Linked DNA regions of Homo sapiens. The protein of the gene in region 1 purifies or fractionates together with the protein of each later gene. This does not show direct contact. Each region holds a gene or a part of one and is shown in the gene's direction. Other genes may lie near its edges. The genes, in order: PPP4R1, CCDC6 and MAP7.

Region 1 (7,163 bases):
CCAGTTGACACAACTGGGAAGACCATCTTTCCCAGTTCACCTTTTAATAAATCGGTTGTCTGTACATGCATGCGTCTGTTTCTGGGCTTTATTCCCCTGCCCCGCCCCATTAGTCTATTTGCCTAAGCGGGGCTTTGAAGAAAGAAAAGTTGCTGATTTCATTTTTAACTGAAACCATAACTTGTGTCCTCCTTTTGCTTCAAAAATATAAGCAATTGTCAGTGTTAACTTAGAAAATTCAGCATCCATGAGAAAAGCAGAGGCCTGTATGTTTACTTTTTTAAAAATTAGGTTTTTCTTCAAAACAGAAACACTCTATTTTGTTCATATCTGGCCAACTTCACATGGTACAACAGTATAATAGAAATTCCAGATATTGGTTTGTTGATAAGATTCTGAGCTTTGTAAAATACAGTATTATCTACTTAAAGGTATGTTAATTTCTCTGTTGATATCTGAAATCCTAGTAGACACATTCATACATATTTACTTTAATGTAGCTTTATTAATGCATAATAATAATGGGTATCAGAGTTCTAGTTAGGTCCGATACAATGACTTGTTACTGATAATCCATCATGTCTGTCTGTATTTCAGTCACTTGCATGTCTTCTATGAATTGCCTACTTGTATCCTTATTTTCTTTCTTATTATTTATTTGAACAGTGTGTTCACTTCCTAATACTCTGTTATACATGAATTTGCTCCCAGGCTGTTTTCCCTTTTAACTGAGTATTGGTATCTGTTATCTATAATAAAGTTTTTTTGTTTGTTTGTTTTTGAGACAGAGTCTTGCTCTGTTGCCCAGGGTGGAGTGCAGTGGCGCGATCTTGGCTCACTGCAACCTCCACCTCCCGTGTTCAAGTGATTCTACTGTCTCAGCCTCTGGAGTAGCTGGGATTACAGGCATGCACCACCACACCTGGCTCATTTTTGTATTTTTAGTAGAGACAGGGTTCACCATGTTGGCCAGGCTGGTCTGGAACTCCTGACCTCAAGTGATCTGCCCGCCTTGGCCTCTCAAAGTGCTGGGATTACAGGCACACCCAGCCTATAATAAAGTTTTTATAATGTATAATTAGTTGGTCTTACGGTTGATTTTTGGATTTTGTCTTCCCACCTCAAGATTGAACATTTAATATTATCTTTTAGTACTTTTGATCTTTATGATGTGCAGTAGGAACTTTTGTTCCGTGCTAACTAGCTGATTTTCCTACTGTTGCTTCTTAGACATTTCATCTTTTTGAAGCCCAGAAATTTGAAATGCCATATTTCTCACATTTAAATTTGCCATATGCACTTGGGTCTTTTCAGGTGTTTAAAAAATATTTGTCATCTTTAATTTTCATTTACCCATTTTTAGTCTTAGTTAAGTCTAATTATATATCTTTCATTTATTGACTAAGTTGAGATTAGGAACTAGTTTTTATGACTTGTCCTAGTAGGTTCTTAAATAGTGGAATTTATGGATAATACTATGTATGTGTCAGAGTATTGATGTAAATATCAGATAGGATATTTAACCCCTAGCACAGTGTGGCACAGTGTAGGTGATGAATAAATTTATTTATTGTTAAGAAATGGTTAGATACTCAGTGCATACTGTGAACAACAGAAGCTTGGATTGAAGATAAGGTCCTCCTTTCACTCATGGGATTGATCTGTGTATGATTCTGAAAAGGAATGCAGAATTAAAGGATGTTGTCTCAAGTCCTTTATATTTTGAAGATGAAAGTCCATAGCCTTCCTAAGTACCCTCAAGAACAGATAAAGGTTTTGTTGCTGCAGGAGAACATGTTTGCTCACATTGCCGTTATTTCAATAGAACCAACTGTGAGAGCGGAGCTGATGGAACAGGTGCCTCACATCGCACTGTTTTGTCAAGAAAACCGGCCTTCAATACCATATGCTTTTTCAAAATTCTTACTACCTATTGTGGTTAGATACCTTGCAGATCAGAATAATCAGGTAAGAGTACCATTTATATGTTCTTAAAAGAAATTTACGTAGTGTAATATATGGAGAATAGCCGAGCCTAAGTGTTCTCTTTGGAATGTTTTACTGTTTTTCAAAAATGAATATTTATCTTAGACAAGATGTGTTTAGAGTCTGACAAATCTAGTAGATCCCTTTAATGCCATTATGGACAATGCCTAGTAACTGCACTCTCACTTGGTAACCTCCTAGCGGTCCCTTAAAAGGTTTGTTACTTTGTGAGGCATCTTTTACCAGGATGGCTCTGTCCACTTCCTCTGTTACAGCACAATCTACGAAGTTCTGTAGTCTTTGTAATAGTTGAAGAAAATAAACACAAATATTTATTTGCGGAGTTTTGCCAGTTATGGGTCCCTTTGAGATGAGAAATCTTTGTTTATAAAAATCAAGTGATAGAATTTTGTCATGTTGCATATGTACTTTCTTTGTGTTGTTATTTTTCTCCTAGGTGAGGAAAACAAGTCAGGCAGCTTTGCTGGCTCTGTTGGAGCAGGAGCTCATTGAACGATTTGATGTGGAGACCAAAGTGTGCCCTGTCCTCATAGAGCTGACAGCCCCAGATAGCAATGATGATGTGAAAACAGAAGCTGTGGCTGTAAGTCAAATGCCATTTTTCCACTTATGCAAAATGTGGCTGATAAGAGGTGCTTATTAAAAGTCAGGCCGGGGTTAGGCACGGTGGCTCATGCCTGTAATTCCAGCACTTTGGGAGGCCGAGGTGGGTGGATCACTTGAGGTCAGGAGTTGGAGACCAGCCTGGGCAATATGGTGACACCTGGCTCTGCCAAAAAAATACAAAAATTAGCCAGGCATGGTGGTGTGCGCCTGTAGTCCCTGTTACTTGGGAGGCTGAGGCAGGAGAATCACTTGAACCTGGGAGGAGGTGGAGGTTGTAGTGAGCCAAGATCAGGCCACTGCACTTCAGCCTGGGCGACAGAGCAAGACTCCGCCTCAAGGAAAAAAAAAAAAATTAGGCTGGGCTGGGTGCAGTGGCTCATGCCTGTAATCCCAGCACTTTGGGAGGCCAAGGTGGGAGGATCACTTGAGACCAGGGGTTTGAGATCAGCCTGGCCAACATGGCAAAACCCCATCTCTACTAAAAATACAAAAAAAATTAGCCAGGTGTGGTGGCACATGCTTGTAATCCCAGCTACTCTGGAGGCTGAGGCACGAGAATCATTTGAACCTGGGAGACAGAGGTTACAGTGAGCCGAGGTCATTCCACTGCATTCCAGCCAGGTTGACAGAACAAGACTCTGTCTTAAAAAAACAAAACAAAAAAAAAAAAAGAAAGAAAGAAAGAAAGAAAAGGCTGCTTTCTGTTAAAGTTGCCACAAATCATTAAATTTGAAATACAATCAGGGCTAGAAAGGGACATAAAGGCTTACAAAGGAAAGTGTACCTTCTGCACACAATACGAAAAAATACATAATTGTAAATTATTATGTCAAAGTGGAAAACTGAAATGGTTATTTTATCAGTGCAGTTAAAATTTTAAAAACCCTGGACTGAACGAAGAAACACTTGAACCCCTTCAGTAGGTATTGAACACTTTTCTAGGCACTGTGTAAGCACAGTGGAAATAAAATAATACTTTGCTCCTGCTCTGACAGGTATGGTCTTTGTGGGAAGGATGGTCAGGCAAGTACATTTCCCAGGATATATGACATCAGTGATGGTTATCAGAAGAATATACAGATTGTTAAGTCATTACGCACATCATAAAGTCAAATGTAATAGGAAGTTTCTGGGTTTTTTTTTGACATGGTTTGCAAATATTCTGATTACTTGAAGGCCATGATAGGGCATGAATTAGTATAGAGTAGTATCTGTTGTGATTCACATCTGGTTCCTGAGTTCGGATAGTAGTAATTCTCATGGTAAATTAGAAAAGTGATAAATTCGTCTGGAAATTTATTCATATCTATTTGGATAGTAAGAGTTCACTCCTTAAGCCTAAAATAATATGGTTGCGTCTTTGTTGATATTTTTTAATAATCACACTATATTTAGTGCTTCTGGATCATCAGTAATGGGATGAATTAGATGATCTCTCTAGTCTCTTTCCCTTGAAGAATTTCTTGAATCTATTATTTTTAGATACTCAGTTACCAGTTAATAATAAATTTACTTTTTCAGTAATGTTTTTACTGAAGTGAACCTTACATGACATAAAATCATTTTAGTGTTAGTGGCATTTAATATGTTCACAAAGTTGTATAACCACCACTTCTTCCTAGTTCCAAAACATCATTATTTCTTTTTTCACTTTAGGATTTTTGCAATGAAGGAAATCAGTTTTGGGCTTGGCCTAATTTTTGGTTTATATTGAGCCGTTTAACTTGCTGTATTATAATTCTCGATGCAATGTAAAATTAGTAAAACATTACAATAAAAAATTTAAAAACTATATCCAGTGCTAGTAGGAGTCTTATGATTCTCTTACAGTTGTGTTTGTTTTTTGGTCATGTTTTATATTCCATGGCTCCCATATTTTCTCTATCTTAATAGATAGAGAAATAATAATTATTTCTTAATAAAAATTAATTTCTTAATAAAAATAATTCATTTTTAAATAAATTTAGTTATGCTACATCAGTGATATACAGCATAACTTTGGATTGTTAACTAGAGCATGGAGATGCTTATTCAAAAAACAAAACTGGTTTTGGGATTTAGGAGATGTAGGCGTTATCTCTAGTTCTGATGATGGTGGGATTTTCATGGGGATAGTGTTGAATCTGTAGATCAATTTGGAGACAATTGCCAGTTTCACAGTCTATGAACATGGTAGATCTATTTATTTAGGTCTTTGATTTATATCTTTAATCTTTTGTAGTTTTCAGCAGAAAGTTCTTGTGTGTATTTTGTTCGATTTCATATTTTTTAAAAGTACTTCTGTGAGTGATACTGTTCTTAAATGTTTCCAGTTCATTGTTCATTGCTAATTTGTAGAAATACAATAGATTTTTATATTCTAATTTATAGCCTACAACCTTCCTAAACATACTTATTCTGGTGGCTTCTTTGTAGATTCCTTCTGATTTTCTGTGTAGACAACCATGTCGTATTTGAATAGAGAGAATTTTCTTTCTTTGCAATCTGTATCTCTTTTACTTCTTTATTTTGTCCTGTTTGTACAGTCTAGCAATTGATACAATTGATAAATGACAACAGGCTATCCCATTTCTTTCTGTATTAACTGTGGGAACAATGTATCTAAATAGAGGGCCAGTTTTCAAATAAAGTTAATCCTCACTTTGCCTCCTATTGTGTTAACTGAAACATGCCTATATCAGAACTGTGTTCATGCTTTCCCTGGAACTGAAGCTTTGCAAAACCAGGACATGGTTCTGATATGTATGAGCTTTAGTTCACAGGGTGCTTTGCAAGGCGAGGACTGAATTTTTTCTTAGCAATACAGATATGCTAAATCTAGATCTTTCCTGGGGATAGTTTTCCCTTTGAACAGTCACCAATTTTTTAAATTGGGAAAATGTAGGTTTTTGTTTGTTTGTTTGTTTTGCTTTTAAAATTACCAGGCAAAATGATGAAGTAGTAGTAAGATGGAAACTGTGGACAAAAATGAAATTGTTAGGATTTTCTGTGGGTTTACTGGGCATGCAGTATTTATTGGTTGTTTTTATTGATTGTGGTTAATATCTGTCTTTGTTTCCTACTTAGATAAATAAGATGAAATTAATAATTGGCTATGAATGTTTTCTGTCATGTATATAGTATAATGATGCCATATCATATTTTATGTTTCCTCAAATTATATACTTTTATTATTTAATTTAACTGAAAGAGGCTTACTTGATATTTTCAGTGTGTGTTTGTTCTTACTTATTTTAGATAATGTGCAAAATGGCTCCCATGGTTGGGAAGGATATTACAGAGCGTCTTATCCTCCCTAGGTTTTGTGAGATGTGCTGCGATTGCAGAATGTTTCACGTTCGAAAGGTATTTTTTTGTCGTTTTTTTTCTGCTGTTTAAGAACATAGTTCTAGTGGTTAATGTACTGATACATGATATTTAAAAGATTATCTTAGAAGAACCTTATGTGTAATATTTTGAAATGTCAATGATGCTTTTGTTGTCAGGTCTGTGCTGCCAATTTTGGAGATATTTGCAGTGTAGTTGGCCAGCAAGCTACTGAAGAAATGTTGGTAAGTATTGCAGATATAAAGGAGTAAACAGTGTGTGTTACAAAGTAGTACATAAAGTTTGAAATGCACACATTTACTCCAAAGTTTTATTAACACAATTCCATGAATATAAACCAGAAAGATAATTTTGAATTTAGGAGTTTAAATATCTGTAATCTGGGCATTTGAATTATCTTTTTGATATTTATTAAAAATATGGATATGTTTCAGAACCATTGATCTGTTTTCACCTCTTCCATTTCTGTTAAGCAAATCAATTCTTACTTATTCAATTGAACCTTTAATTTTATTGCAACCCTCAAGAATGTTGATGACATATTAAATCTATAGCAAGTTAGTTTTAAATAGTACACAAGATGCCTATACTTGATGTATAAGTCACCATATCTAAAGAGTTTCTGAAGCCATCTCTTATGCAAAATAATTAAGTTCAGGGGCAAGCTCTTGTAAAACATTTAAGCTATGATTGTTGGGAGTGCTTTTGCATAGCCAGAAATATTGCATAAGACAATCCAGTATGCTTTTGCATAGCCAGAAATCCGACGGACCAAATTATCAGCACTTTTTATTAATTTATCAGTGATCTTTCATGTTGGGTAGGGTTTTGATTATCACTTTTGTGAAATAATACATTTCTGTCCGTTTTAAAGCAAACATAATTTTGACTCATAAGAAATAACTTAAAATTTAAGATATATTATTATATGTTATATATTTATAATTTAAGATACATTATTTTTTATACTTTTAGGAATAGACAGTAAATTAGATGTGATTTATTGAAAATTGTTGAGTATAAATACTAATAGATCCTACTTTTTAAGACAATCCAACATTTAAAACACTGAGGCTGGGCGTGGTGGCTCACACCTGTAATCCTAGCACTTTGGGAGGCCAAGGCAGGTGGATCACCTGAGGTCAGGAGTTCGAGACCAGCCTGGCCAACATGGTGAACCCTCATTTCTACTAAAAATACAAAAATTAGCTGGGCGTGGTGGC
Region 2 (7,511 bases), on another chromosome or scaffold:
TCAGGCAAAGTTTTAGATGTTACTGGCTGCCAAAGCTCCAGACACATAAATCATATGTGTTTTGTTTTTTTTTTTTTCGAGACTGAATTTCACATTTGTTGCCCAGGCTGGAGTGCAGTGACGTGTTCTCGGCTCACTGCAACCTCCACCTCCTGGGTTCAAGCAATTGTCCTGCCTCAGCCTCCCGAGTAGCTGGGATTACAGGCATGTGCCACCATGCCCAGCTAATTTTGTATTTTTAGTAGAGATGGGGTTTCACCATGTTGGTCAGGCTGGTCTCAAACTCCTGACCTCAGGTGATCCGCCTGCTTCAGCCTCCCAAATTGCTGGGATTACAGGCATGAGCCACTGCCCCCAGCCTGATATTCTTACTTCTCAAATGATTTACTTTAGCTGATGACTTATTTCTTTAGACTGTCATCTGTATTAATGGCTTTGGTTCCTGTGAAGCAATAATGAGTGAATAAAAACAGGAGCATAGGGATGAGATATGTAATTAATCTTGTAGTCATGATCTCTTGACAAGTTGAGATGTTGCATGTGCAAGGCTAGTTTAATGTTAAAAAGTGTAAAATATTGAAAAAACATGTTGTAGAAATAGAGTGGCTGGGCCGGGCATGGTGGCTCATGCCTGTAATCCCCCTACTTTGGGAGGCTGAGGTGGGTGGATCACCTGAGGTCAGGAGTTTCAGACAAGCCTGGCCAACATGGTGAAACCTGGTCTCTACTGAAAATACAAAAAACTAGCTGGGTGTGGTGGCTGGTGCCTGTAGTCCCAGCTACTCGGGAGGCTGAGGCAGGAGAATCGCTTGAACCCAGGAGGTGGAGGTTGCAGTGAGCAGAGATTGTGCCATTGCACTCCAGCCTGGGTGATAGAGCGAAATTTGGTCTTCAAAAAGAAAAAAGAAAAAAAAAAAAAAGAAATAGAGTGGCTAAAGACAGCAATAGTATAAAGTGTGGATATGGTTGTTTGGGCCCAGGATCTCTTGTCTAATTGACACTGAGAAGATAAAATGAGAAGGAAATTCTGTTGGTGACTCAGTGGTATCTAATCAGTGTGTAACCACTCCAAAATGGGGCTGTCTTTTGTTTTACTAGTTCAGTGGTTCCAAACTGGAGGTAATTTTGCTGCCCAGGGGATATTTGGCAATGTCTGAAGACATTTTTTGGCTGGCATACTACTGGAATCTACTAGGTAAAGGCTAGGGAGGCTGCTAAACATCCTACAATGCACAGGACAGCTCCCTACAACAAAAAATTACCCAGTCTCAAATGTCAGTGTTCAGAAATGCCTTGCTAGACCTAGACAAAGCTTCTAAATTAAAGGTGTAATTAGATAAAGAAACTATCAACTACTTTTCAAGAAATGATAGCCCTAGGCTGGGCACAGTGGCTCTCGCCGGTCATCCCAACACTTTGGGAATCCAAGGCAGGAGGATCACTTGAGGCCAGGAGTTCAAAGCCAGGAATTCAAGACGAGACTGGTCAACATAGAGAGACCTAGCCTCTTAAAAAAAAAAAAGAAGGAGGAGAAATGATAGGGCTACATGGACACATTCTTCTATATTTCTATCCAACTTCTGACACTGTGACATCCCGCTCATACTTGGCTCACCCTAATTTTTTTCAAAACTGTAATGGTGGGTCCTGCAACAACTAAATCCATTTAGAATTTGAATAAAATTACTCAGATCTGACATTAATGTAACTGGATATGTACAGCAATTTGTTTATATATATTAAAAATTAACAAAATTGCTCTATGATTTATGCCATTATTATTTTATTTTATTGTTGTAAACACTAAAGTTCCAAGGCCATAGAGTAAGTGATTTGCAAAAATGGCACTAGACAAATAAAAATCTTGATGTTGCGCCTTGCAGTTAGACTACAAGGTATTCTTTTCCTTTGTTCATGTGTTTTTGCAGCTTAAATTGAGGGCAAAGCTAAATTTCATTATTTCTCCAAAGGAGGTGATTACCTAAATCTGTCCCTTCTTCCTCCAGGCAGCACATACTACCATTTGTTCTTGTGATTCATTTCCCCTAGAAAGCTGAGAAGGAATTTTATAATGATATTATTGGTTTTGTAACTGGTGTTTCCATTGTAATGCTATTACGGAACCAGTGTTGTGATAAATGATCTGTTTATAAGGGAAATCACTTTTACAAGAAGTAGAAAATTAGACACGCTTCTGCTTTGCAATAACAATAAAAACCGCGGTGAAAAAATATTCTCCAGTTTATTCCCATCTGTATCAGCAGGGAAGCTTTAGAAGATGGCTTTCTCCCTAAAGTCTTCTAACCACGATTACTACCTACAAGTCCCATGTCAAAATGCAAATTTCCTCCAAATTCCACTGAAGGCCACTACATTCTTAAGCTTAACCATGACTTGGGCCCTTTAAGAAAACCAGGCGCTTCAAACTCCACCCCTCTGCTGACTTGAAGCAGTGTGAGTCCGCCTTTCCAAGGCGGTTAGTTTTGTGGTGACGCTAAGAGAGAGTTAATTTGCCCCCTGCTCTGCCTGGAAGGAATGTTCCTGTTGCAATAAGCTCTAAAAGTGGAAGCTTTAAGATAATATGGAATAGGGAGCAATAGAAACTTGTGAGGTATGGCAGCCAGACCTACTCTTAAGATTCGATCACAGTGCTGAATAAAGGGGAAAGAATGTTGTTAAATCTGTTTCCCCCTGTGGTGCTTCTCCCTGCTAGCTTTACTCTTCCATTTCAACCCTCAAGTGAGCTTTCCAGAATCCGTTTCCAATTTAACTCATTGTCTCATGTACTAGATCCCAAAAAAGTGAGAGAACTAAGTTTCAGTGCAAATTAAACTGGATCACTTGTAACAGAATGATTTAGATTGCCTATATGTTTCTCAAGAGCAAAGCCAAGCATTTCCTCCCTCCTGCTATACAAACAGTGACAGAGTTCAGAAGCCCTCCAGCACTAAGCTAAAAAATACCTGGGAGAAACTGGGGTTTAGTTGCTGTTGGCATTTAAGCTGTTTGCTAAAAGCAGCCATCTTGGTGAAAGATGATGTCATTTGGAACACTTGGTGTTTTCGAGTTTATTCTGAGGTGCCAGTTTCCAAGAGCCATTGAATCACCGTTTAATCATGAGATCAAATTTAGGTTTAAAGATAATGAGGGAGTGGGAATAAGAATCATTCTTCTTTCTTCCTAACACTTTAGAAATCTTTCAGAAAGTTCAACCCAACAGAAAAAAAAATTACACTTTTTTTTCTATTTTCTATTACCATGTGTTTGTTGTAATGTTAACTAAGCGTGGGTAATAAAACTAGTCTGGTCAGTTTCACTTTCCAATTTTTATACATAAGTGAAAGCTGTTTTGTGTCAACAGGGCAAAGTGTTTAGAATCATCTCACCTGCTGGGCCAATTTCCTGCAAGCCTTTCTTTGGGAAGAGGAAGGGGGAATAAAAGTTTTTGATTTTTAATTTCTTAAACTGCAAAGCTAGAACCATGAATTAGACCGCATTACAGTAATTACTGTTTTATTTTTACATGCTAAAGTTTTCTAGGAGTGAGCAAGAGGATAGCAAAGACGGGTGATGTTGCACTCCCACTCAATCATTACTATTTGTATAGCATAATGTTATGTCCGCAGTTACTTTGGAAAATTGGCACTTAAAGAGGTGTTTCAATCTTCTACTAAAAGTGTTTCGCCTTCCTTTTTTTTTTTCTTCATTAGGTAAATGTTACTGTCTTAATCCTACTACGAGACATGTGCTGGAAATGTTTGCAAAATGCAAAGAGAAAAAGAAAAAAACAGTTGCACCTTGTTTAAACAATTGAGCGCAGTGTGGTTTATGAGGTTATTAAAGGAGATGTGTGTCTCTCCTGCAAATTCTTACTTAACAAGGTTAACCTGTGGCTGCTGTTGTTTCATCCTCCTCGGCCTCTTGTAGAGGAACTTTGTTCTCTTAGGTTTATCCAAGCCTTCCTAGTCAAAAACACCTTGCTTTTGAGAATATAAAACTGCGTGTATGTGTGAAACAGATAGAGGGAGACACGCGCACACACAGTCGGCGGAAGATGGGGCCACAACACGGTAGAGGATGGGTGCCGGAGCCCGGCTGACCTTTCCACGTGTCCCCGGCACCTGCGAGGCTGGTGGGGCATCAGGTTTCCTTTTTCTCGGGGCGGGCGCGAGCCCGGAAGAGGCTGGGCGGCCGTGGGCTTAGATCAGGGGGCTCGGAGGCCCTCCCTTGGAACACGTGTGGCTGGCGAGCTGGTGGTGCGGGGGCAGTCCTTGGCTTTCCCGCACCCGCAGTGCCTGCGCGTTCCCAGCCCGCCCGTGGTCACCAGACGGCGGCGGGCGGGTCCCGGAGCTTTCAGCCAGCTTTGCTGGGCGGCCTAGGGAGCGCGCCCAGCCCGGCTGGAGCGAGCCCCAGTGCAATACTGCCCAAGCCCGGGCGGGGTCTCTGTTCTCTGGCAGAGGAGGTCCCTTGGCAGCGGGAAGCGCCCTCTCTTTCTCTCGCCGCCGCTCCGAGTCTGCGCCCTGGTGCCAGGCGCTCAGCTCGGCGCTCCCCTGTGCTCGCCCGGCGCCCACTCATTCGCAGCCCGGCCTTCGTCGCCGCCGCCTCCCTGCTGCTCCTCCTCCTTTCCCCAGCCCGCCGCGGCCATGGCGGACAGCGCCAGCGAGAGCGACACGGACGGGGCGGGGGGCAACAGCAGCAGCTCGGCCGCCATGCAGTCGTCCTGCTCGTCGACCTCGGGCGGCGGCGGTGGCGGCGGGGGAGGCGGCGGCGGTGGGAAGTCGGGGGGCATTGTCATCTCGCCGTTCCGCCTGGAGGAGCTCACCAACCGCCTGGCCTCGCTGCAGCAAGAGAACAAGGTGCTGAAGATAGAGCTGGAGACCTACAAACTGAAGTGCAAGGCACTGCAGGAGGAGAACCGCGACCTGCGCAAAGCCAGCGTGACCATCGTGAGTGCCCCCCGGGGACGCGCCGCAGCGCCGACCTCCGCCCGCCCCGGGAGGGGCTGCACCCGAATCCAGCCACCCCCCAAGTCTTCCCCAGATTCCCGGGGACCCTCTGAGAGCACACTCCCTGCGGGGACCTGCTGGCTTCCGGGAGGAGAGGGAGGTATCCCTTCGGGGCCACGCGGGTCTGTCCTCCTCGGGGGTCTGAGGACCCTTGCGCGGTGCGGGGGAAGGCTACTGTGGCAACCATTCATGGTCCCTTTTAGCCTCTGGAGAGGAGGCCCCTCCGGGGCTGGGCTGGAGGCTGGCGGCGTGGCTGGGGGGCGGGGTAGGACTTTTTTCAGCCCTAGCATGTTTGAGGGGTGCGTCCAGAATCTGGGGAACCCCAGTCCTGGAAGAGGGAGGAAGCTGGGATCTCTTACTGGGTCCTGGCTCGGAGTGTGGGGGTTCGCAGCTGGACTGGGCACTAAGCTGGCATCTGGACTGCGCTAGCTGGATCGCCCGGGGAGGGGGCGGGAGAGAGTGGCCGGGAATCCGGGAAGTGGAGTTTTCTGGCCGGGATCGAGAGGGAAGGGCGGGTACGGCGCTAATGCTCCCACCTCTGTTGGAAGCTCTTTGCTTTGGGTTGGGAGGGTGGACGGTTTACAGCGAGGAGAGTGCAGCATCCACGCCTGGACAGGGCTGGGGCCGAAACCAGGGGAAGGGTAGTGACTGTGACTCCCTGGCTGAGCCAGAGGTACGTGTGTTTGCTTCATTCGTGGAGTGGTTAGAAGTATCTTGCTTCTGAGTCTAGATACTGGAGAACAGGCCATCTGTTCTGTTTCTACCTGTCCCCTGGAGGCTGCCCAGAAACGGGTAAGCTTGGGTCTGTAGGTCTCTCTCCTGGTGTGGCAGGCGTTTAGAAAGGCCCCTATAGCAGTGATGAGGCGAAACGTAACTAGAAAAAGTACACTGTGTACTCTCACCTATCATCCCTGCCAGCTCACCACATCATTAACATGAAGGATCCCCACACAGACAACTGTATTCAAATCAAAAGTTCCCCAGCCAGAAGCAGAGAAGATGATGTCAAGAAATCAAGGGGGATAAATGGCCATAGCTGCTGCAAAATAGCGGATTAGGCTGAACTTTGAAATGAAGAAAAAGGGATGAATTTGGGGATAGAGGGTCACACCTTGGAAATGGAGCAAGTTTAGGATGCCCCTTGTGCCAGGAAATGCCTTCGGTGGAGGAGGCTGTGTATATGTGTGCGCACGCGTGTGTACACCCCCAGTGCTGGCTCATACATGAGAACTAGATGGCATTCTTAATTTGTGTAGAAAGCAAGTTGCAAGTTAAGTGTGATCAGTAGCCTAAATAGCAGTTGATTGTAAAAAGAAACTTTTCATGCTCAAATCCAATTTTGGAGAATGGAATTGGAGCAACTTTCATGTGAGATGGTAAAGTTCTTGAAGTGCCCTTTTGGTAGGAAGGTGGGGGGCGGGGAATTTGCAGAGGCAGCCACTTCCAAGCCTCCTATGCAGCTTTCTTCGCTGACAGAGATGTCTTTGCTGAGTGGGGGTTAAGAAGAGAGGGAAGTTGTTGGAGGCAGTTTAAGGTTTGAGTTAGTAAATGAGAGGGTTAGTCTCTTGGAGACTGTGAGCCATGGAAAGTAGTAAGACTTGCATGAAGCAAAATAGCCTTTTGCATGCAGTGGGCAATTCAGGCTGGTTTTGTTTGGGAGGGAGGAATGAGGGATGCAGAGACTATGAAAGGGTTATCTGTTTGACACTTAGACCGTATTATAACTAGGTTTGTAAATTGTGCTTAAACATGTTGGCTTTGCAGGAACAAATGTGTTCATTCCCGGTGTTTAAGATCAGAGGCCTTCTGAGTACTTGGCTAGAAGAGCGTATAAGGTGGTGGCTTGCTTTCTTAGCACTTACCCTTAACTACACTGACATCCAACCGAATATACTTTGTGAAATGTCGTGTGGTGTTAATGAGTAAAGTTAACATTGTTTTAGATGACACTGCACAAGTACCAGAAGCCTCTCAGTTCTTCTTTAATTTCTGACTAATATATTCAGGGAGACACATAAAAAAGTGCTTGTGGTTCGCCTGGTTTCCTAATACTTGGCAGTTGTTACTAAGGAGCTGAATGATAAATGCAGAAAACAGATTCCTTCAAGATTTTGCAGGTTTTGTTAACTGACCTAGGATCCAGATTCTGTGGTGGTACGTTTGACCTCTCAGGTATGTAATGCGGGAGGAGAAATTTATGTGACTCCATGAAATGGGCCTGTGAATGTAGAGTCCATTGAACAACACTTAAGTAGTTTATGTCAAGGTTAAGCTGTACAATCCCTGACATCGCTGACTTAAGCATTACCCTTGCTAGTGGCAGGCTAGGAAGTTTCTGATAATTAAGTGAAGGCCTTGTTAGATTTTTCACTATTTTAGTTAATTTGAAGGGAAGATGGTACCATAATTCTGGTAATTGCCTTCCTGGCTCTTTTTAGTTCTAATTATGATATTAACGTTCATGTCCTTGGGCACTAAAGGTGATTGTGGCCTTCTTTTTCCTTG
Region 3 (7,163 bases), on another chromosome or scaffold:
GGGAGCAGCTGGGCAAGTCTGGGAGCCAGTGCTGTTCCTGTGCAGACTGTACATGACCCTGAGCTGTGGTGTGGGCGTAAGAGGGGGAGACCGTGACATCCACCATCCCATCTTTCCCATTGATCATGAATCTGGCTAGCTGGGCAGTAGTGTCCCCTCACTTCCTCTTCACTTGGGGATTTTGCTCTCCCTAAACATTTGAATTTGAAGATGAAAGCTGTTCTTTGTTCAAGCATGTATGAGTGGACGCCCTACCCTCCTGGAGCGTCCATACACATAAGTACAATGCCAGAATACTTTCATTTTTGAAAGTAGGAAAACCAAATGGCCTTTGAAGGGGAAGTGGGCTTGGACTGCTGCCTTGGCATTTTATTTCAACCATATCCAGAAGCTGGCTGAACTCTAAATGTGGTTCACTCAAAAGCAAGATAAAGAATTTTTATCCTGCTTGGCTAATCCCTGTCAAGGCCCTGTCAAGGGATCTTAAAATTTAGTCAAAAAAGTATTTTGAAAACATTAGTCATTTGCTATATCACTAATTCGTAAAAGGCTGTTAGGCTGTGCTATAAATTCTGATTTTGTAAGTGAAAAATATAATTTGTACTTATTATTACGGGCTGAGGTAATGTTAATTTTCACCATGCTATAAATGCAATGAGGTAATTTGTATGTCTCCAGGAATCTTCTTCTTTGTTTTAAATCTTGTGTTTATTTGGTGTCAGTTGAAAGATATAAACCTTGTTCTGTGGTCTTTAGACATTGTACTTTAGTCTTAAAGGACTCACCAGTGAACTAGAAGATCTCATTGCCTCTCTCCAGGATAACAGTATGACCCTTTTGATGAAAGGCTGAAACAGTTTCTTAAAATCGTAACTTCCCAGAGCAATTCAGATTTATAAACCTGATGGACACTTAAAAGGATTTTGCTTAAAGGATAATTCAGGGTTGTGAGAGCTTGATGGCTTTGCCTACAGCCTGTTTTTCTTTCAAGCTCCATCGGCCTTTCTGGAATCAGTGTTTGATTCATGATTGAGTCAGGCCTCCAACCCTCTAAGCCACAGGTGAAACAATCTTTGATGTCTGGAAAGTTTTAATTTATTAGAGTGTTGGTGTTTCAGAGATCCTCCTTAGCTGTAGACAGAAAGCCGTAGTTAAACAGAACAGGTTGGCCCCAAAGTTGGGTACTCACTGGGCAGGGGAAAAGAGCATTTACCATGGAAAAACTATCTTGTTCTGGGTAAAAACAAAAATTAACACTCCTTGAGAGAAGGTTGAGGGCCACCTGTGGCTGACAGGTTAAATGAGAGATTTGTCATCACATGATCCAGAGCCTTGTTTTGTTTTGTTTTTATTACCTTCCTCTTTCTCTATTTAATCACATAGCTGTCTTTTTACCTCTTTACAACCAAGTATTTAGGCAAATACTAACAGAAAACGACTCAGAGTCATTTATACCCTGGAGCTGCACTGTGGAATTCAGTAGTGACTGGCCACAGTGAGCACTTGGAAAGTGGCTACTGAAACTGACAAGCTAAATTTTAAGTTTTTAAAAAATATTTAGTTGTGTTAAAAAAAAAAAAAAGCATGTAACGTAAAATTTACCATTTTAATCATTCTAAAGTTCAGCAGTGTTAAGTATATTCATATTGAAGTGCAACCAATGTCCAGAACTTTTTAAGTCCTGCAAAACTCAAACTCTATACCCATTAAACAACTCCCCATTTCCCCCTCCCCCCAGGCCCTGGCAGCCACTGTTTTAATTTCTGTTCCTATGAATTTAGCTACTTTATAGACCACATAAAAGTGAAATCATGCAGTGTTTGAATTTTTGTGCCTGGCTTATTTCACTTAGCATAATGTCCTCAAGGTTCATTCTTATTATAGCATATGTCAGAATTTCCTTCCTTTTTAGGGCTGAATTATATTCCATTATATTTGTATACCACATTTTGTTTATCAGTTCATGTGTTGGTGAACATTTGGGTTGCTTTCACCTCGTGGCTATTGTGAATAACGCTGCTATGAACATGGGAATATAGATATCTCTAGAGATTGTTCTTTCAATTTCACTTGATATATAGGGATTGCTGGATCATATAGTAATCCTATTTTCAATTTTTTGAGGAGCCTCCATGCCATTTTCCACAGCAGCTGTACCATTTTACATTCCCACTAACAGTGCACAAAGATTTCTGTATCTCCACATTCTCGCCAACAATCGTGATCTTGTTTTTTGATAACAGCCACCTTAAGGAATGTGAGGTGATGTCTTGTAGTTTTGGTTTGCATTTCTTTAATGATCAGTGATGGTGAACATATTTTCATATGCTTGTTGGCTTTTCATGTGTCATCGTTAGAAAAATGGCAATTCCAGTCTTTGCTCACTTTTTAATGGGGTTATTTTGTTTTTGTTGAATTGTAGAGTTATTTATATATTCTAGTAGTAACCCCTTATTAAATATATGACTTACAGATACTTTCTTCTATTCCATAGGTTGCCTTTTTACTCTACTGATTGTTTCCTTTGATATATAGAAGTGTTTAAGTTTGATGTTGTCCCATTTGTTTATTGTTAATTTATTGACACTTTATTGCCTACGCTTTTAGTGTTATATCCAAGAAATCAGTACCAAACACAGTGTCATGAAGCTTTTCACTTATGTTTTCTTCTAGAGGTTTTATAGTGTTAAGTCTTACATTTAAGTCTTTAATCCATTTTGAGTTAACTTTTGTATATTTTAGAAGGTAAGAGTCCAACTTCATTCTTTTGCATTTGGATATCCAGTTTTCCCTGCATCATTTGTTGAAGAGAATGTCCTTGTTTCATTGAGTGGTGTTAGCTTTTGACCATATACACAAGGGTTTGTTTCTGGGCTCTGGATTCTATTCCATTGGTCTATATATCTTTTTTTTTTTTGAGACAGTCTCACTCTGTCACCCATGCTGGAGTACAATGGCACAATCTCAGCTCACTGCAACCTCTGCCTCCCAGGCTCAAGCAATTCTCATGTCCAGCCTTCTGAGTAGCTGGGAATACAGGCATGTGCTACCACGCCCATCTAATTTTTGTATTTTTAGTAGAGAGAGGGTTTCGCCATGTAGGCCAGGCTGGTCTTGAACTCCTGACCTCAAGCGATCCACCCATCTCGGCCTCCCCAAATGCTGGGATTGCAGACATGAGTCGTAGTGCCCAGCCCCATATATCTATATCTGTCTTGATACCATTACCACACAGTACTGATCACTGTAGCTTTTCACCAATTGAGTATCTCTAATTCAAAAATACAGAATGCTCCAAAATGTGAAACTTTTTGAATACCAACATGACACTCAAAGGAGATGCTCATTGGAGCATTTCACATTTCCAGTTATATGGATTAAGGCTGCTAAAGCAGTAAGTGTTAATGCAAGTATTCCAGAATCTGAAATCTGCACACTGTAATCCCAATCATTTTGGATAAGGGATACTCAACCTGTAATATGTTGTGAAATCAGGAAATGTAAGAATTCCAACTTTGTTCTTTTTCAAGATTATTTTGGTTCTTCAGGATCCTTTGAAATTTTCTGTGAATTTTGGGTTGAATTTTTATATTTCTGCAAAAATAAAAAATTATATTGGGATTTCAATAGGGAATGCATGGAATCTGTGGATCCCTTTTGGTAGTAGTGACATCCTAACAGTATTAAATCTTCTAATCCCTGCACACAGGACTTCCTTCCATTTATTTGTGTTGCCTTTAATTTCTTTCAGCACTATCTTCTAGTTTTCAGTATGCAGATCTTTAGCCTCCTTTGTTAAGTTCATTCCTAAGTACTTTATTCCTTTGGATGCTATAGGAAATAGAGTTGTTTTTCAAATTTCCTTTTCTATTTTACTTAATTTGAATTAATTTAGATTTAAATTCAAATAGGCAAATGTGGTTAGTGGCTAAATTTAGAACATCTTCATCATATCAGAAAGTTCTATTAAACAGCACTGCGTTAAAGTATCTGTCAGTGAATCGTCTCTGTTGGAGGATATTTATACTGTATTCTAAACCTACCTTAATTATAAAATTAAAGTCCTTTTCCTGCTGATATGTTGCCCAGACCATTGACTTGCTGAGTATGTGTTCCCCCTCAGCATTGTGGAAACTATTAATAGGAAAGATGATTGTATAGATGGTGGGCTATTAACTCAGATCAGGATGAGAATTGGGAGTGCCTTTACATGTGTGGTACCCAAATGGGTGGTTGGATATAAGAGTAACAAAAGGACTGAAAGGTTTAAAAAAGAAAGAAAAAAAAAAACTCCCTGGTTGGGAGGGTGTTAAGTATCGAGTGTTTTTCCAAACCATTCCTCCTCTGCTCACCTACCCCTAGGTGATTAAAGGAGATAACTTTTAAAAAAGAAAGAATTGGCTCAAAGGTACTGTAATTCTAGGATTATATACCTTTATATAGGTTCATTCCCTGATCCCTGTATTATCAAGGCACAGATAATAATAATCCCCAACCACCCCCACGCCACATCAAAAATTGTCCCTCTTGAGTCTTTTTCCCATTTACATCACCCATTGATCTGATTTCAGCCAAATCAAAATGTTTTGAGAAAAAGAAAAAAAAAGAAGGGCTACTTGAGGTACTTAACCCCAGTCTCCCCTGGGAAAAGACCTGGGCATGCCACCCTGTACACCAGCCAGGAGTGCCCCATATGGTGGCTGCAGCTTTTGATACCCAAAGCCCACAGCAGCTCTGTGAGGCCCCACCTCCTACTTTTGGGGACCTAAAATGGGAGAAATGGTGGTTGAGCAGCTGGAAATGATGCAGAGCTGGCACACACCTTGTGAAGCTCTTCTCTGCCTCTTTCTTCATTTTTTCTGTTTAGAAATCCCAGGGAGACAATGAGCATTATTTGACACTTAAATGTTTTTGCTCCTCTGATAACCCAGACCATCAACTAGGATGCTGCTAAGGAAAATGGAGGGAAGCAATTAAAAGGGACACTGAGGGGAACAAAAGGGAAAGGAAGGAAAAGAGGAGTCGATGCTTGAGCCAGGCAGAAAAGGAGAGAAGAAAAGGTACAGTACTAGTTCATGTGACCTGGGGCTAGATAATACTCTGCCCCTTCCCATGTACGCTTGCAGTCTGCCCTCCTGACAGGTGTTCACATAGGTGCCTCCAGCACGTGCCCCTCCCACCTGAGGGCATTGTCAGGTTTCAGATACTTGGAATGGGTCTGTTTTGCTCTGTACAATTTTTGTTTGTTTGTTTTGGTCTTCATTGACTTTAGAGTAGTGGAACACTTCTCTGGGCTTCCCTTTGCCCATTTTGACTTAGGAAAGTGTCATCTCTCAAGCTGAATTCCTAGTTGGCAATCAGGGAGGGGTGATGTTTTGGCCCACCTTCAGATTTCAGTTTATTCCTGGTAAGGAAGAGCAAAAAAATAAATAGCTGAAATTCCTCACTTTAAACCTGACTTTTCTTCAAAATCACCTATTGTATCAGTTATCTATTGCTGCAAGAGGACAGTAGGTGAAGAAGGACTTGATTCCATTATACAACATCAATATAAAAGAAAAAAATGAGTTTATGTCTAATATAGCAGGCATATAATTTTTTTAAAGACTGAGATATAGTGTGTTTGGGGGGAAAATGTTGAAGAATTAAAAAGAAAAAGATGTGTTTTAATTAAAATTTTTTAAAAAATGAAAGTAACATTTGACATTTGTGGGGGATAAACCAGAATGGGACGTTTTGCTTCAGGTAATTAATTTTAGACACAAAGTATAGGTGCTTTCTAAAAGTATGTACACACATATGCTTTTTGACAAATATGACTCCAACACATCCGGAATCACCTTATTAGTGTCACATTGTGTTAATTCAGTTATACTGTTCAGTGTTAAGCTAACAAGGGCCTTTTGTTGAGATGGAATGGGTATATGTGACATAGCTAAGAAAATTTCTTAAAAGTCATTCAATGGTTTCTAGCTCCACTGTTGAGTATTGTGAGTGTGTTTGCCTCGCTTGTGGAAAAATCTAACTATTGAGTTTCTCTGAACTTAGAGCTATAAAAAAGAAAGAGAGAGAGAAAATGTACTCTTCCTCACATCTGGCACCCGAAGGGCTGTATCTCCATCTAATCCCAAAGCAAGACAACCAGCTCGCTCCCGACTTTGGTAAGTGAAATATAAGTGGCTGGCTGGGTTGTTTCATGTTAGAGAATTAGTAGCTCTCTCCTCTGAAAGTGAACTGTTCTTCTCATGCTGTTTGGCTTTGACTTAGGGAATAGCATTCTTCCCAAAAGGAAAGAAAAAAGAGAAATTGGAATGGTTCCCTAAAGCAACTCTATTTCTGTATCTACCACATAAAAAACAAATACACGGAGCTAAATATCTGCATTCTCTTCCATCGAGTCGTGTTCTAGGTTCTGGCAAGCCTGTTCTCATGTGTCCCCTTTTGTCTGCCTTGTTTGTTTGTGGCCCAGGCTTCCGTCCAAGTCTCTTCCTCATTTGCCTGGCACACCCAGACCGACATCCTCCTTGCCACCCGGCTCAGTCAAAGCTGCTCCTGCTCAGGTCCGGCCCCCATCCCCCGGCAACATCCGCCCTGTCAAGAGGGAAGTCAAAGTGGAGCCTGAGAAGAAAGATCCTGAGAAGGAACCTCAGAAAGTTGCCAATGAGCCCTCACTAAAGGGCAGAGCACCTTTAGTGAAGGTAGAAGAAGCCACAGTTGAAGAGCGGACACCTGCTGAACCAGAAGTTGGCCCTGGTAAGAGCAAACTCACCTGTGGTCTGGGTGCTCTCTCTTTTTCTCCCGCACTGTTTTGATGAAGCTTTTTTTGTTTTCCTTTTCTTCTTTTATTGGAGACTTGGAAATTTTACTCTAAGGTTAAGTTTAATACCTTTCCTTAAGTATAATATTTTAACTTCGCATTGCTTAAAAATAGTTTTTTACTTAGCAACGCTAAGTAAAAAATTACCTGGCAACACTATTCCTGTGCATACTGGAGTTTAAGGACCCCTGGCGTAGCCTGTGTGCTTGATAGAAGTCAGAATTTTTTCCAGAAGACCCACTGGTTTTCACCTCTGCCAGGGTAACCAGATGCTACTTAGAAATGTAAAACCACCTGGAGCTTGAAGTTCAATATCTCTAGTTGAAAACTGTCTTCATTCCAAAGT

The links.
Region 2: the proteins of PPP4R1 (region 1) and CCDC6 purify together in Homo sapiens (affinity purification with mass spectrometry; 3 studies listed by BioGRID and IntAct, with this or other methods). This does not show direct contact.
Region 3: the proteins of PPP4R1 (region 1) and MAP7 purify together in Homo sapiens (affinity purification with mass spectrometry; 2 studies listed by BioGRID and IntAct, with this or other methods). This does not show direct contact.

The regions. Positions count from the first base shown.
Region 1 is NC_000018.10:9,583,516-9,590,678, reverse strand, and holds part of PPP4R1 (serine/threonine-protein phosphatase 4 regulatory subunit 1), read left to right. Parts: intron 1-1,825; coding exon 1,826-1,968; intron 1,969-2,443; coding exon 2,444-2,590; intron 2,591-5,850; coding exon 5,851-5,958; intron 5,959-6,098; coding exon 6,099-6,164; intron 6,165-7,163. UniProt on the Homo sapiens protein: Regulatory subunit of serine/threonine-protein phosphatase 4. May play a role in regulation of cell division in renal glomeruli. The PPP4C-PPP4R1 PP4 complex may play a role in dephosphorylation and regulation of HDAC3.
Region 2 is NC_000010.11:59,903,557-59,911,067, reverse strand, and holds the start of CCDC6 (coiled-coil domain-containing protein 6), read left to right. Parts: upstream 1-4,511; 5' UTR 4,512-4,643; coding exon 4,644-4,946; intron 4,947-7,511.
Region 3 is NC_000006.12:136,365,325-136,372,487, reverse strand, and holds part of MAP7 (ensconsin), read left to right. Parts: intron 1-6,048; coding exon 6,049-6,161; intron 6,162-6,469; coding exon 6,470-6,753; intron 6,754-7,163. UniProt on the Homo sapiens protein: Microtubule-stabilizing protein that may play an important role during reorganization of microtubules during polarization and differentiation of epithelial cells. Associates with microtubules in a dynamic manner.